Homo sapiens: one gene and its partner. The protein of the gene in region 2 purifies or fractionates together with the protein of the main gene of each other region. This does not show direct contact. Each region holds a gene or a part of one and is shown on either strand. Other genes may lie near its edges.

What was found.
Region 1: the proteins of REG1A (region 2) and NAA25 purify together in Homo sapiens (co-immunoprecipitation; 2 studies listed by BioGRID and IntAct, with this or other methods). This does not show direct contact.

What each region holds. Positions count from the first base shown.
Region 1 is NC_000012.12:112,105,774-112,112,810, forward strand, and holds the start of NAA25 (N-alpha-acetyltransferase 25, NatB auxiliary subunit), read right to left. Parts: upstream 3,011-7,037; 5' UTR 3,001-3,010; coding exon 2,943-3,000; intron 1-2,942. UniProt on the Homo sapiens protein: Non-catalytic subunit of the NatB complex which catalyzes acetylation of the N-terminal methionine residues of peptides beginning with Met-Asp, Met-Glu, Met-Asn and Met-Gln. May play a role in normal cell-cycle progression.
Region 2 is NC_000002.12:79,116,288-79,123,502, forward strand, and holds REG1A (lithostathine-1-alpha precursor), read left to right. Parts: upstream 1-4,200; 5' UTR 4,201-4,227; intron 4,228-4,528; 5' UTR 4,529-4,574; coding exon 4,575-4,638; intron 4,639-5,274; coding exon 5,275-5,393; intron 5,394-5,700; coding exon 5,701-5,838; intron 5,839-6,553; coding exon 6,554-6,665; intron 6,666-6,860; coding exon 6,861-6,928; 3' UTR 6,929-7,122; downstream 7,123-7,215. UniProt on the Homo sapiens protein: Might act as an inhibitor of spontaneous calcium carbonate precipitation. May be associated with neuronal sprouting in brain, and with brain and pancreas regeneration.

The DNA of each region.
Region 1 (7,037 bases), on a different chromosome or scaffold from region 2:
TGTCTATGTTCAAATCCCAGCTCTACAACTTGGTAGCTACAACCTTGAGCAAGTTAATCTCTAGGCTTCAGTTTGATCACAATAATCTTACCTACCTAATAGGGCAGTCAGCCCACCAGTAAACACTAATTAATGCTGATAGTTGTTGAATTTTTGGCTGGTGGGCAAGTACCACCATAGATGAGTTTGTTCATTTGTCAGAATGTCTGAATTCAAGGAACCATGGTTGTTTGGGGGTAGTAATGTATTTAAACAACAAAAGTGTGGAGTTCAAAAGTCAAATGTGCTTAAGTGCTGAATTCACGGACAGTCTGTACCGTTCTTTTCCTAGTCCTGCCAGTTTATACTAATCGCCTTAGAATTACTGAAGAAAGCCTCTTCTAATCCTCTTCCCATGTACATGTTACAAAAGCTACATAATTCTGACTTCAGTTTTGAGAATATAACTTGTTAATATATCCTGATGTTTAGTGATGTGAAATGGACATGGTGTTTCCCATTAGACAGTCAAAACACTATTAATTCTAAATAACTATGGGACCAAAGAAATTCTCTTTGGTCCTCAAGAACAATTTTAAAAATCAAATTATTCTTGAAAGTATTGAGTGTTTTTAGTTTAAAAAAAAAAAAGTCTGCAGGCAGCTGCTGCACAAAGCTGTAATGAGTCACAAACTATGAACCCTGGATTCAGTTCTCACCTTCCATCACCCACCTTGTATATATATCTCTGCCCTCTGAAAATATACACTGGAGGGCAAGGGCATGAGAATATGCAGCCCCGGGGAAATAGGAAATCAGAGTCCTTTCTCTGCCACTTACCATCTGTGTGACCTCAGGCAAATCAGTGTCTTCAGCTCAAAGTGAGGTAGTTTCTAGCACAGTGGTTAAGAAGGTGAGCCTGGGCCAGGCACAGTGGCTCACACCTGTAATCCCAGCACTCTGGGAGGCTGAGGCAGGACTGCTTGAGCTCAGGAGTTTTAGACTAGACTGGGCAACATGACGAAACCCATTCTCTACAATATATACAAAAATTAGCCGGCATGGTGGCGGGCACCTGTAATCCCAGCTACTCAGGAGACTGAGGCAGGAGAATCACTTGAACCCAGGAGGCGGAGGCTGGTTGCAGTGCACTGTGATTGTGCAACTGCACTCTAGCCTGGATGACAGAATGAGACTGTCTCCAAAAAAAAAAAAAAAAAAAAAAAAAAGGTGAGCCTGGAGCCAGGCATGGTGGCTCACACCTATAATCCCAGCACTTTGGGAGGCTGAGTAGGTCAAGAGTTCAAGTCCAGCCTGGCTAACATGGTAAACTCCTGTCTCTACTAAAAACATGGAAGTTCGCTGGGCCTGGTGGCGTGCAACTGTAATCTCAGCTACTCAGGAGGCTGAGGCAGGAGAATCGCTTGAACCTGGGAGGCAGAGGGTGCAGTGAACTGAGATTGTGCCACTGTACTCCAACCTGGACGACAGAGTGAGACTCATCTCAAAAGAAAAAAAAGGTGAGCCTGAAACAGTCCACAGGGGTTCAAATTCTAGCTCCAAGAAATACTAACTGAGTGGCCTTAGACAAATTACACAACAACAATAAAGCCTCAGTTTCCTCATCTGTTTTTTTTTTTGTTGTTGTTGTTGTTAAAGGGTTCAGGGGCAGGAAAAAACAGTAGCCACCTCTTGAGAATGGGTGAAGATTATATTAGATAACCCATATAAAAGGCCAAGGCCAGTGACTGTCATAATGAGTCATCTATAAACCTTAGCTATAGGATTGTTGCTAAAATCAAATGAGATGTGAGAGTAAAAAAAAAAATCACACAAATTATGAAATAAAAGCCGGACTAACTGTGGCCAGAAACAAAGTTAACCACCGCCCCCCGCTCCCAAAACGATTCCCACCTTGGAGAGAAGCCTCCAATTTAGTAACATCCACATGAGGTCTATAAATACGATGTCTACTTTTGTAAAAACCACTGACCTTGAAGCTTCCTCACCATTAAGTGAGATAGACCAAGACCATAAAACCATCTAAGAGGAAAGGAAATGCAAAAAGGACCAATCCAATTACACATTTCGGTTATTGGAAAAGGGTTTCTCCCAAACTCAAAATCTGTGATTTTTCACTACCAGGGTAAATGGATGAGATGACATCAAGGTCTTCAAGTCTGCGGGTTGAGGTAAGAGTTGTGGAGAGGGATCTGCTTAGCACAGGGAAGGAAAGCTGCAGAGAAAACCACAGAGAAGCTGCAGAAAGGAGAAGCCCTCCAGTAGCTCTGCATGCCCCTCTGACACGAGCTATCACAATCTCTTCACCGCTATTTTAGGCCCAAGACCCCCTCCCCCCGCCTCCCACGTGTGACCAGAGTAGCTGCTTCTCCACCCAACAGCTCTGGATTGGGAGCCTGGAATCTCGGGCCTGCTCCTGACTCGATCTGGGTGACCTTGCGTCAGCCCCTTCCCCACTCCGGACCTCAGTTTCTCCTATGCACCGAAGCCCACCTAGTCAGACAACCCTCTAGGCCCAATTCCCGTAAATAAAAAAAAATCTCTGGTAGGGAATCTTCCCTCAGGCAGGGCGTCCCACCCTCGTGCCGGAGCCGGCTTCCACCTTCGGGGAGATCTCCGGTCTCCCTAGGAGCGGCGGTAACGATGCAGCCTGCGGGTAGCGCAGGTGTCTGCAGAACCACGCGTCCCACGGGGCCTGCCAAGCAGGCCAGCTCTGCCGACCAGCTGCTGCCCAGACCGCGCCACTACCACCCCAAGGCTGAGGAAGGTTGGGCCGGCGCCTACGCGAGGCCCGCGGCTGCGGCCTAGTGGCCCGCGCGGCCCGCCCCCCTGCGCCTGCCCGGCCCGCGCGCCGGCCCTCAGCACCCCTCCTGGGCTTTCGCCCCAGCCTCGGCAGCCCTCGGCGCGTCGGGCTGGCGAGCGGGCTGGTCCAAGACACTCACCGTAAATGGGCCGGAGGCGCCTGTCGTTAGGGTCCTGCACATGGCCCCGCGTCGCCATGATGACAAGCGCAGAACCACAGTGCGCACGCGCGGGGCAGGACCCCGGGAAAGGGCTATTAAAGGGCCAGCGTCGATCTCGCTTGTCTATCACGATAGTCGCGGTGCTGCGACTGAACGCGCCTGCGCGGAAAGGGAAGCATCCACCCTTGCCGATTGCCACCTCTTTAAACGCTGTTCCTTCACTTAGCAGGTGGGATCAAGCTGGCAAGAGGAGGCAGCTGTTGCTGTTAAAGTCTTCCGAGTCACTGACTGGGAAGTTAGGAGAGGAGGGGAGAAAGCTCTCAAAGTTAGGGTTCGGCTGCTCCTGTTTATCCTATTTATTCTCCGTCCTGAAGAACCAGCTAGACTTGGCTGTGATTAATCGCAGAGGAACCAGAAACTCCCGGGGGAGAGAGACCCAGGGGAAAGTTGGGGAAGCGGGGCTGATCAACAGCAAAAATCTGCCAAAAAAGTTCGAGAGAGCCGGGCGCTGTGGCTCAGCCTGTAATCCCAGCACTTTGGGAGGCCGAGGCGGGCGGATCACAAGGTCAGGAGATCGAGACCATCCTGGCTAACACGGTGAAACCCCATCTCTACTAAAAATACAAAAAAAGTTAGCGGGGCGTAGTGGCGGGCGCCTGTAGTCCCAGCTACTCATGAGGCTGAGGCAGGAGAATGGCGTGAACCCAGGAGGCGGAGCTTGCAGTAAGCCGAGATCGCGCCACTGCACCCCAGCCTGGGCGACAGAGCGAGACTCCATCTCAAAAAAAAAAAAAAAAAAAGAAAAAAGTTCGAGAGCCCTCCACCACCTGTTCCTGGACCAAACTGAGCGTCAGGCTGCTGTTTCTCCTGGTTCAGTAAGGAGATGCAGATGAACTGGAGAGGAAGCGAGTTTTTATTTCTGCAACCAGTTACAGGGAGAAGGCCTGGAAATTATCACCAGACCAACTTAAAATTACAAAGCTTTCCAGAGCTTATATACCTTCTAAGCTATATGTCTACGTGTAAATGTGCATTCATCTAAAGACATAAGTGATTAACTCGCCGGGCGCGGTGGCTCATGCCTGTAATCCCAGCACTTTGGGAGGCCAAGGCGGGCGGATCACGAGGTCAGGAGATCGAGACCACGGTGAAACCCCATCTCTACTAAAAATACAAAAAATTAGCTGGGCGCAGTGACAGGCGCCTGTAGTCCCAGCTACTAGGGAGGCTGAGGCAGGAGAATGGCGTGAACCCGGAAGGCGGAGCTTGCAGTGAGCCGAGATCCCGGCACTGCACTCCAGCCTGGGCGAGGGAGGCTCCGTCTCAAAAAAAAAAAAATAATAATAATAATAATTGATTAACTCACTTTAGTCTATAACTAAGGTTTGAGTCCTGAAGACTTTCCTTTGAAGCCTCAGTAAATTTACTTAATCTAAATGGCAATAGGTGCTGGGGTGATTATCCTTATCTTGCCTCCTACTAAATCACGGAGGTTTGGGGAGTTACTTCAGACCCCCAATAAAATTTGTTTAATCCTAAATGGGTCCTGTTAGGAATTCTTTCGTTATTTTGTCATGCTTTAAGGCCAAGGAAAGGCCTAGGCAAAACTCTTGGTGGGCTTTTGTTACATTCCATCCTTTGTATAAGGGCACTGGCTTTTTTTTTTTAGCTTTTAATATGTAACTTAACCACTCAGTTAGTACTGAAACAGTTGTTATGGAGGCCTGTGTTAGTGAGACCTGGCCTGCCACACACCCTTCTCCCAGGACTCAGCCAACAAAGAAGCATCCTAGATGAATACTTACTCGGTATCTGCCTAGAGTATTTAAATGCAAGGTCTTTACATTTATTCTCTCATTTAATTTTCATAACTGTCATCGTATTTCCCTGGGAGGTAGATCTTATTATTACCTCTCTTTTTACAGATAGATTTATTCGTACAACACTGAGTTATTGAGTGCCTATTATTTGACACACTCTTGTTTTAGGCACAGAGGATACATCAATAAATAAAATAGACAGAGACTTAATGGAGTTTTTATTTGTAGTGAGGGAGACAGACAATAAATAAGTAGATAGCCTATTACATGGTGATAAATGCTACTGAGAAAAATAAAGCAGGAAAGGGGGGCAGTGAGAGAGGGAGGTAATTTTAAATAGTGTGGTAAGGCTGGCTTGGTGGCTCACCCCTGTAATCCCACCACTTTGGCAGGCCAAAGTGGGTGGATCACATGAGGTCAGGGGTTCAAGACAAGCCTGGCCAACATGATAAAACCCCTTCTCTGCTAAAAATACAAATATTAGCTGGGTGTGGTAGTGTGAGCCTGTAACCCCGGCTACTCAGGAGGCTGAGGCAGGAGAATCGCTTGAACCCGGTAGGCAAAGGTTGCAGTGAGCCAAGATCGTGCCATTGCACTCCAGCATGGGCAACAGAGCAAGACTCTTGCATAAATAAATAAATAGGCCGGGTGCAGTGGGTCGTGCCTGTAATCTCAGCACTTTGTGAGGCCGAGGCGGGTGGATCACCTGAGGTCAGGAGTTTGAGACCAGCCTGGGCAACGTGGCGAAACCCCATCTCTACTAAAAATACAAAAAATTAGTCAGGCGTGGTGGCACGTGCCTGTAATCCCAGCTACTCCCGAGGCTGAGGCTTGAACCCGGGAGGTGGAGGTTGCAGTGAGCCAAGATCATGTTGTTGCACTCTAGCCTGGGCAACAGAGCAAGACTCCATCTCAAAAAAAAAAAAAAAAAAGGAAGGCATTTAAATACTCCAGAGGTCGGGAATGGTGACTCACGCCTGTAATCCTAGCACTTAGGAGGTCTAGGCGAGCGGATCACTTGAGGACATGAGTTCGAGACCAGCCTGGGCAACATGGCAAAACCCCATCTCTACTAAAAATAAAAAATTAGCTGAGCGGCTGGGCACAGTGGCTCACGCCTGTAATCCCAGCACTTTGGGAGGCTAAGGTGGGTGGATCACGAGGTCAGGAGATCGAGACCATCCTGGCTAACACGGTGAAACCCTGTCTTTACTAAAAATACAAAAAAATTAGCCAGACGTGGTGGCGGGCACTTGTAGTCCCAGCTACTCGGGAGGCTGAGGCAGGAGAATGGCGTGAACCCAGGAGACGGAGCTTGCAGTGAGCCGAGATTGTGCCACTGCACTCCAGCCTGCAACAGAGTGAGACTCCATCTCCAAAAAAAAAAAAAAAAAAAAAAAAATTAGCTGAGCAGGGTGGTGCGCACCTGTAATCCCAGCTACTCAGGGGGCTGAGGCACAAGAATCACTTGAGCCCAGGAGGTGGAAGTTGCAGAGCCGAGATTGCAACACTGCACTCCAGCCTGGGCAACAGAGGGAGACTCTGTCTCAAAAATATATATAAATAAATAAATACTCCCTGGATAAGGATCATTTGAGCCCAGGAGTTTGAGGCTGTAGTGAGCTATGATTGCACTACTGCACTCCGGCCTGGGTGACAGAGCGAGACCCTGACTCTCCAAAAACAAACAAACAAAGACTCCCGGGATGAAGTTATCAGGCAAAGTACAACAAAATATTTGAGACATACATACATACATTCACTGTTTATCTTAAATTCAAATTTAACTGGGTGTCCTGTATTTTTATTTGCTAAATCGGGCAACCCTGCGCTAGGGGAAACTCCATGCCCCCCAAATCATGCTAAGCAGCAACAATGAAGGGCAGATGCCTCAGGCAAGCTGACCCTAGGATCACTCAGAGATGGTGTGTGACCCTGCTGAGGTTGGGCTAGGACAGGGAAAAGGAGGGAGGAGAGCTGGGGTTCACCTTTGGTGCAAGTGAAAGAGATGATGAGTCACCTGAGATTTAAGAATTTCCCAGGAATGGAAAAATACAGCACCTTTAAGGGGAGCACATATGAGGCTCCTAACCAAGGCTCGGGTTACTCAGCCATGTTCTTACGCTACCTTTGTTGGCCTGGCCCCAGAGGAATGCTGATAGACTTGGCACCCAGCTCCCTGAACTTGGCAAGACCAGGGCATCATATGGATCTACCTAGCAGAGGCTTCTAGAGTCTTAGGTCACCATCCTTA
Region 2 (7,215 bases):
AGATCAGAACTGTGTTGTTAATAGATGTTTAAAAAAAAAAAACAAATAAATTGTGGGGTAGGTATGGGTGCTTGATGTCTTATACTTATTTACATTTTAAGCTCTTCTTATGGTGTCTCTGGCCATAGCCATAATGAGTTTGTGGTTACTAAATCAGTCCTCAGAGGCCTAGATGGGTTGAACATGGAAATTACTTAATAAAAGAAACTCAGGTAGTTGGAATAACAAAGTGACCCTAAAGCAAAACTGCTTGTGTTGAATATAGTTCCAATAAATATCTGCCATTTGAATTGGTTTAGTTAGTTCTTCTCTGACCCTCAGTCTCTTCATTTGTTAAATATGATTCTTAATAGAACCTATATTATTAGGACGTCTTGTGGATTAAGTAGGTTCCTGTTAGTCAGCATTAGAATAGTCCCTGACACAGAGAGCATGCAATGAAAGTTTGTGTTAAATGGCCAGATGCAGTGGCTCATGCTTGTAATCACAGCACTTTGGGAGGCTGAAGTGGGTGGATCACCTGAGGTTAGGAGTTCGAGACCAGCCTGGCCAACATAGTGAAACCCTGTCTCTACTAAAAATACAAAAATTATCCAGGCGTGGTGGCTTATGCCTGTAATCCCAGCTACTTGTAAGGCTGAGGCAGGAGAATCACTTGAGCCTGAGAAGCGGAGGTTGCAGTGAGCTGAGATGGCACCACTGCACTACAGCCTGGGTGACAGAGTGAGGATCCATCTCAAAAAAAAAAAAGAAAAAGAAATTTTTTGTCAAATAAAACAGAGGTTTCCTGTGAAGCAGAAAAGGCTAAGTTATAAGTAAGTTTTCTTTATGTCTGCAGAACACAGCAGACCAGGGAAAGTCCTGAATGTATCTTGTATTTCTTGAGCTCCTTTCCTCTCCAGTCTAAGGTTTGCAGACAGGCTTCTATTCACATGCCTGCTAAGTATTTAAACAAGAGGAAAATTATTTCTCAATAACAAGTCTAAAATCTCTATTACAAGCATCAAAAGCAGAAAATACCTACTGGATGATGGCCAGTAGCACCATTTATCACCTACAGCCTTGAAACGTTCTAAGCCATATTAAGTCTTATCAAGAAATTGCCCCACTTGGGCACATATTAACCCTAACGTCCATGATACTTGTTTCTATCTCTGAGAAAATTAACATAAGGAATAGATGGGAAAGGCCTGAAATGAGCTTCTGGGAATCTTATAAAACTAGGTCAAAGGTCCTTGAAGTTCCTCAGAAAAATAAGGAAAATATTAAAGGGATTGAATGTATGGCTTTCCTGAAAAAGGAATTTCTCTGGGACCAAGGCTGCTACCAATTTATGTCCTAAATTTTGTTATCTTGCATGTGGAATTTGGCCAGTCACCTATGTAAGCAATAAGTGCAACTTCTCAATGGATTTACTGCTACTGGGGACAATAAAGATTTTTATGGGAGTACTTTGTCAATTGTTATTTGTTTTGAATCTCTGTTTTATGTCTTCCTGGTTGTAACATATTTTATTGTGTATTTTAGAGTATTAGGTCTTTTATACCTGGACAGTCATTTCTTGTTTGAAGTTATGTTAAATTTAGAAAAAATCTCATATTTTAAAAATATTTATTATAAAGTCATATGCATACATATGTTCATTGCAGCACTGTTCACTATAGCAAAGACATGGAATCAACCTAAATGCCCATCAATGATAAACTGGATAAAGAAAATGTGGTACATATACACCATGGAATACTATGCAGCCATACAAAAGAATGAGATAATGTCCTTTTGAGGGACATGAATGGAGCTGGAGGCCATTATCTTTAGCAAACTAACACAAGAACAGAAAACCAAATACTGCATGTTCTCACTTATAAGTGGGAGCTAAGTGATGAGAACAATTGAACAAATAGTGGGGAACAACACACACTGGGGCCTTTTGGAGGGTGGAACATGGGAGGAGGGAGAGGGTCAGCAAAAGTAACTAAGGGTACTAGGCTTAATACCTGGGTGATGAAATAATCTGCACAACAAACCCCCATTACACAAGTTTACCTCTGTAACAAACTTGCACTTGTACCACTTAACTTAAAATTAAAGTTAAAGGGTGGGTGTGTTAGCTCACGCCTGTAATCCCAGCATTTTGGGAGGCTGAGGCAGGCAGATCATGAGGTCAGGAGATCGAGACCATTCTGGCTAACACGGTGAAACCCCATCTCTGCTAAAAATAAAAAAAAATAAAAAAACTTAGCCGGGTGTGGTGGCGGATGCCTGTAGTCCCAGCTACTCTACTCGGGAGGCTGAGGCAGGAGAATGGCGTGAACCCCAAAGGCGGAGCTTGCAGTGAGCTGAGATTGAGCCACTGTACTCCAGTCTGGGTGACAGAGCCAGACTCCATCTCAAAAAAAAAAAAAAAGATTAAAGTTAAAAAAAGAAAAGAAAACATTATGCCATAAAGTATTTTTATCTTAGATTTTTTAAAAATTAATTGCTTGTTTAATTTTCACAAGATAAATATGTAATGATACCAAGTATACCCGACTCTTCCCTACTATATCCTTTGTTAACGGAAGAATATTTCTGAATCTCTTATTTATAGAAAAAAATAGGAATCATTCTCTGGTTGTAATCATTTTAAAAGGTATAACTACTTTTTGTAAAAGCAGAAAAAATTTGGATTAATTTAACAAATGCATATGAACCAGTGAGAATAAACAATGTTAACATTTGTCATCTTTGTTTAATATCGTTAGTTTTTGTTTTTATTTTTTGAGACAGTTCCCTGTTCTATCACCCAGGCTGGAGTGCAGTGGCACAACTCACTGCAACCTCTACTTCCCAAGCTCAAACAATCCCCCACCTTAGCCTCTTAAGTAGCTGAGACTACAGGCATGTGCCACCATATCTGGATATATATATATATATATATATATATATATATATATATATATATATATATATATATACTTTTTTTGTAGAGATGGGGTCTCGCTATGTTGCCCAGGCTGGTCTCGAATTCCTGGGCTCAAGTGATCCTCTCATCTCAGTCTCCCAAAGTGCTGGGATGACAGGCTTGAGCCACCACACCAGGCCCATCATCAGTTTTTATATAAAGAAAAAAAAACCTTAAAATTGTTAGGCAAATACTATGACAAATTGTAATATATATTCTTACATTTCAGATTTTTATTTTTTAAACTGTATAAGAATTGATTAATAAATAAAATTTAGTATTAATCTGTCTTTTAAAACCATATATAAAGTTTATCAAATAGCTTATAACTTCTTGCAACTGAATTTTTGTATTCAATGTTATGGCTTTGATACTAGTCCAAGTTGAAATATAGATATCTACTTTATTCGATTTAAATTCTGTTTAGTATTTTATTATATTTTGTTAATCCATTTGTCCCAATTCATATACTTATCTCTCTTTCTGTGAATATTCAGGTTAGTTTTTTCTTCCTAATTTTGCATTCTGATTGGCTTTTATTCCCTGAATTATAAATGACTATTCTATGATGATTCTGGTAAATACTCAATTTCACCACACAATCTTTGACTTCATACTAACAAACAGTTGACTTCAAATGGACAATTTCAATGAAGCCTGACTTCATATTTAGCTCCTTTAAGCTTCCTTAGGCATCAGCTCTCTACAATTCTCACATTGAGAATATGTGTATTTTGTTAGCTCAAACCTTGTTAGACATGTTAAATGTTTAGAAATATAAATTTAACCTACCCCTTGAGGTAGGTCTTGAGAGGTTTGTGAGCCTAAAAAGACATGGAGGAACCACTTATTGCCACAAGCACATTGTTCTAAATTATTTGGAATCAGTTAATTCTTCCCCATCTCCTACCCATGCCTGACACCAAAGAGGAGCCTCTAAATTTACAGGGAATACAAGGAAGTCTACTGTTCTCTGCTCCTCTCTGGGTTATTAGGGCACATGGGAGCCCTCAGTTGTTTTCTGCTGAGCAAGAGCAAAGTCCACCTTGGACTTAGACAGCTTGCCAAATTTTTTGCCAGAAGGGGACCTGAGTTGTGACCACTCCCAGTGTGTGCCGGGAAAAGGCTCGTACTGGTGCCAGAATCTCTTACTGTCAATGCTCCCAAAACTCACCGCTTGCCCCCACCCCTTTTGCTTAAATGACGTGGTTCTTATCTCAGATCCTGATATAAAGCTCCTACAGCTACCTGGCCTGAGAAGCCAACTCAGACTCAGCCAACAGGTAAGTGGGCATTACAGGAGAAGGGCGTCTCTAACATGCACTGTAGATCTAAAATCTTCGGGAAGATACAGCATGAGTTTCTGTCCAAGAGGTTTTAGCTGTAATGAAGCCTCAGTGGGATCCAAAGTTGTTTTTCAGTTACTGAGTCTGTATAATCCCCACTCTCAAGAGAAACATTTGAAGGTGTGGGTGTCTCAGAGGACCTTCCTGGTCTCAGAAATTCTGAGAGGAGGTTTTAAGGAAGGTAATAGGTGCTTTGCTCTCCATCTCTCAGAACCCCCTTCTCTGTGTTCTCCTATAGAGATTGTTGATTTGCCTCTTAAGCAAGAGATTCATTGCAGCTCAGCATGGCTCAGACCAGCTCATACTTCATGCTGATCTCCTGCCTGATGTTTCTGTCTCAGAGCCAAGGTAAGATCTCTTTTCCACCAACCAACTCTTTCTAGCCCTGAAGACTTCACTCTATCCCCAAGCATACGGGTCTACTTGAAAAAAAAAAAAAAAGCAGAGTCACTGTTAAGGGTTGTTTTGTGGTGTTTAGTGATCTTTATTGCTGATCTCTTCACATTTATATACATCCACACCTCATTAAGGAGTTGGAGCTAGAATTTAAAATGACCCCTTATAAGCAACTGCTGCAGTTGGCATGAGTTTATCTGATTAAATTTATACGTGATGGTGGATTTGGGGATGTCTGTGTGTAGACAGTCACTAATGGGGTGGAGAACTGAAGAGAGCCTTGTGTTCAGGGAAACCAAGTCAGGCTTGAGAAAGTAGAAGGCTGAGTCCTTCAAGGTAGAAGAGCCTGAGCTCCAGACATAAAAGGGAAACTGGAGACTTGTTTCTTTGGCCTATTCATTCTGTTTTTTTTCCCCTGATCAAAGAAACCAAAGACAGAAGATGTAGGATGCAGGAGCAATAGTGAGCAGTCATCCCATAATAGACTGGATTCTTCTGTTTCTATAAAGGAACCTCAGAAGCTCTTACCTCACCTTCAAGCCTTTTCCTTACCCTGAGAGCCTCCTTTAATTGTCTCTTCTTTTTCAGGCCAAGAGGCCCAGACAGAGTTGCCCCAGGCCCGGATCAGCTGCCCAGAAGGCACCAATGCCTATCGCTCCTACTGCTACTACTTTAATGAAGACCGTGAGACCTGGGTTGATGCAGATGTGAGTGAGGAGAGCAGTGTGGGAAGGGAGACTCATGAAGGGAGGGGAAGCTGCCACTCTCCAGTGTGTTCAGTGGCTGCAATGAGATGAGACTGAACCCCTTGCTATACTATCATCAGCCCCAAACTTTCCAATCTACTTTATCCCATTATTCAGCACATTCCCAGCACAAAGAACCTGGTGGTCAGTGACAGCATCATCACGGACATTACTCTGCTGTCCTTTTTCTGACCCGTCCTCTTGGAGGACTCAGTATATCCGTCACAACTTCCTCCTCCACTGAGTGCTCCATTTTCTTCTGCAACAGCTCTATTGCCAGAACATGAATTCGGGCAACCTGGTGTCTGTGCTCACCCAGGCCGAGGGTGCCTTTGTGGCCTCACTGATTAAGGAGAGTGGCACTGATGACTTCAATGTCTGGATTGGCCTCCATGACCCCAAAAAGGTAGGCTGCAGCCTTCTTTATCTCCTAATGATCAGGTTTGAGAAGTAAGAAGGAGGTTCAAGTTCTGGTCTCTTAAGTACCAGCTTTTATCGCTTTCCAGAAATCAGGCTGTTTACAGATCCTCTAATGTCCTGTGTAGCAAGGTGCACTGTAGATGATTGGAGATATAAGTGGAAGGCTGAATTTCCTAGGTGTTCTTGTCATTCATGAATAAACTTATTCTGTTTTCAGTCAACAAAGCATCTTTATGCACCAACTTCTTACCTATTTTGTTACTGTCAGAGTCACAAGAGAGACTAGATTGCCGACTATATAGGAAAGGAGACTTGTGGTAAAAATCTGCTGCTGTACTGCTGGCATTTGGGAACCTGGTAGTATACTAAATAATATAATATATCAACAACTAATGGTCAGCCAATGCTATGCTGGATATGAGGGTCCTGGGCCACAAAGACAAAAAATCAGGAACCACTTTTTAAGTGAGATACTTTGGGTCTCTGTCAAATTCATAACACTTATTTCTTGGTGGAATACAGTTAATGAGTTGGACAGTTCAGGAAAGAAGTTTAGAGCAATAGCAAAGGAAAGGAAACAATATTTAGCAAGGTTTATTCTTCCTTTGTGTCTTAGCATGTTTCTGAGTGTGCACACAGGCCCAGTGATTCCATGTATTTTTGAGTGACCACTGCCTCTGTTCTGGCCCTTCCCCATCTAGAACCGCCGCTGGCACTGGAGCAGTGGGTCCCTGGTCTCCTACAAGTCCTGGGGCATTGGAGCCCCAAGCAGTGTTAATCCTGGCTACTGTGTGAGCCTGACCTCAAGCACAGGTGAGAGGCAGAGAATCCATCCACCTGTTTCTGTTCTCTCCTGCTTAGCTCCAGGGATGGAACTGGGACTGGGATAGAGGAAAGGTGAACTCCTCATTAAGGAAATGGATGTTTGGTTTTTGTCCTGAGTCCTAAAGCCAGGAGGGTCATACTCTTTCGGGTCTCCCAGTTGTAACTCTTCTCATTGACTTATAGGATTCCAGAAATGGAAGGATGTGCCTTGTGAAGACAAGTTCTCCTTTGTCTGCAAGTTCAAAAACTAGAGGCAACTGGAAAATACATGTCTAGAACTGATCCAGCAATTACAACGGAGTCAAAAATTAAACCGGACCATCTCTCCAACTCAACTCAACCTGGACACTCTCTTCTCTGCTGAGTTTGCCTTGTTAATCTTCAATAGTTTTACCTACCCCAGTCTTTGGAACCCTAAATAATAAAAATAAACATGTTTCCACTATTGTGCTGTCTTACTGTGTCTGCTATTTCCACAGCTGATGCCTGGGTGGTTGAGATGAGAGTGATTACAACAAAGCTTGCTCTGGCCTATCCA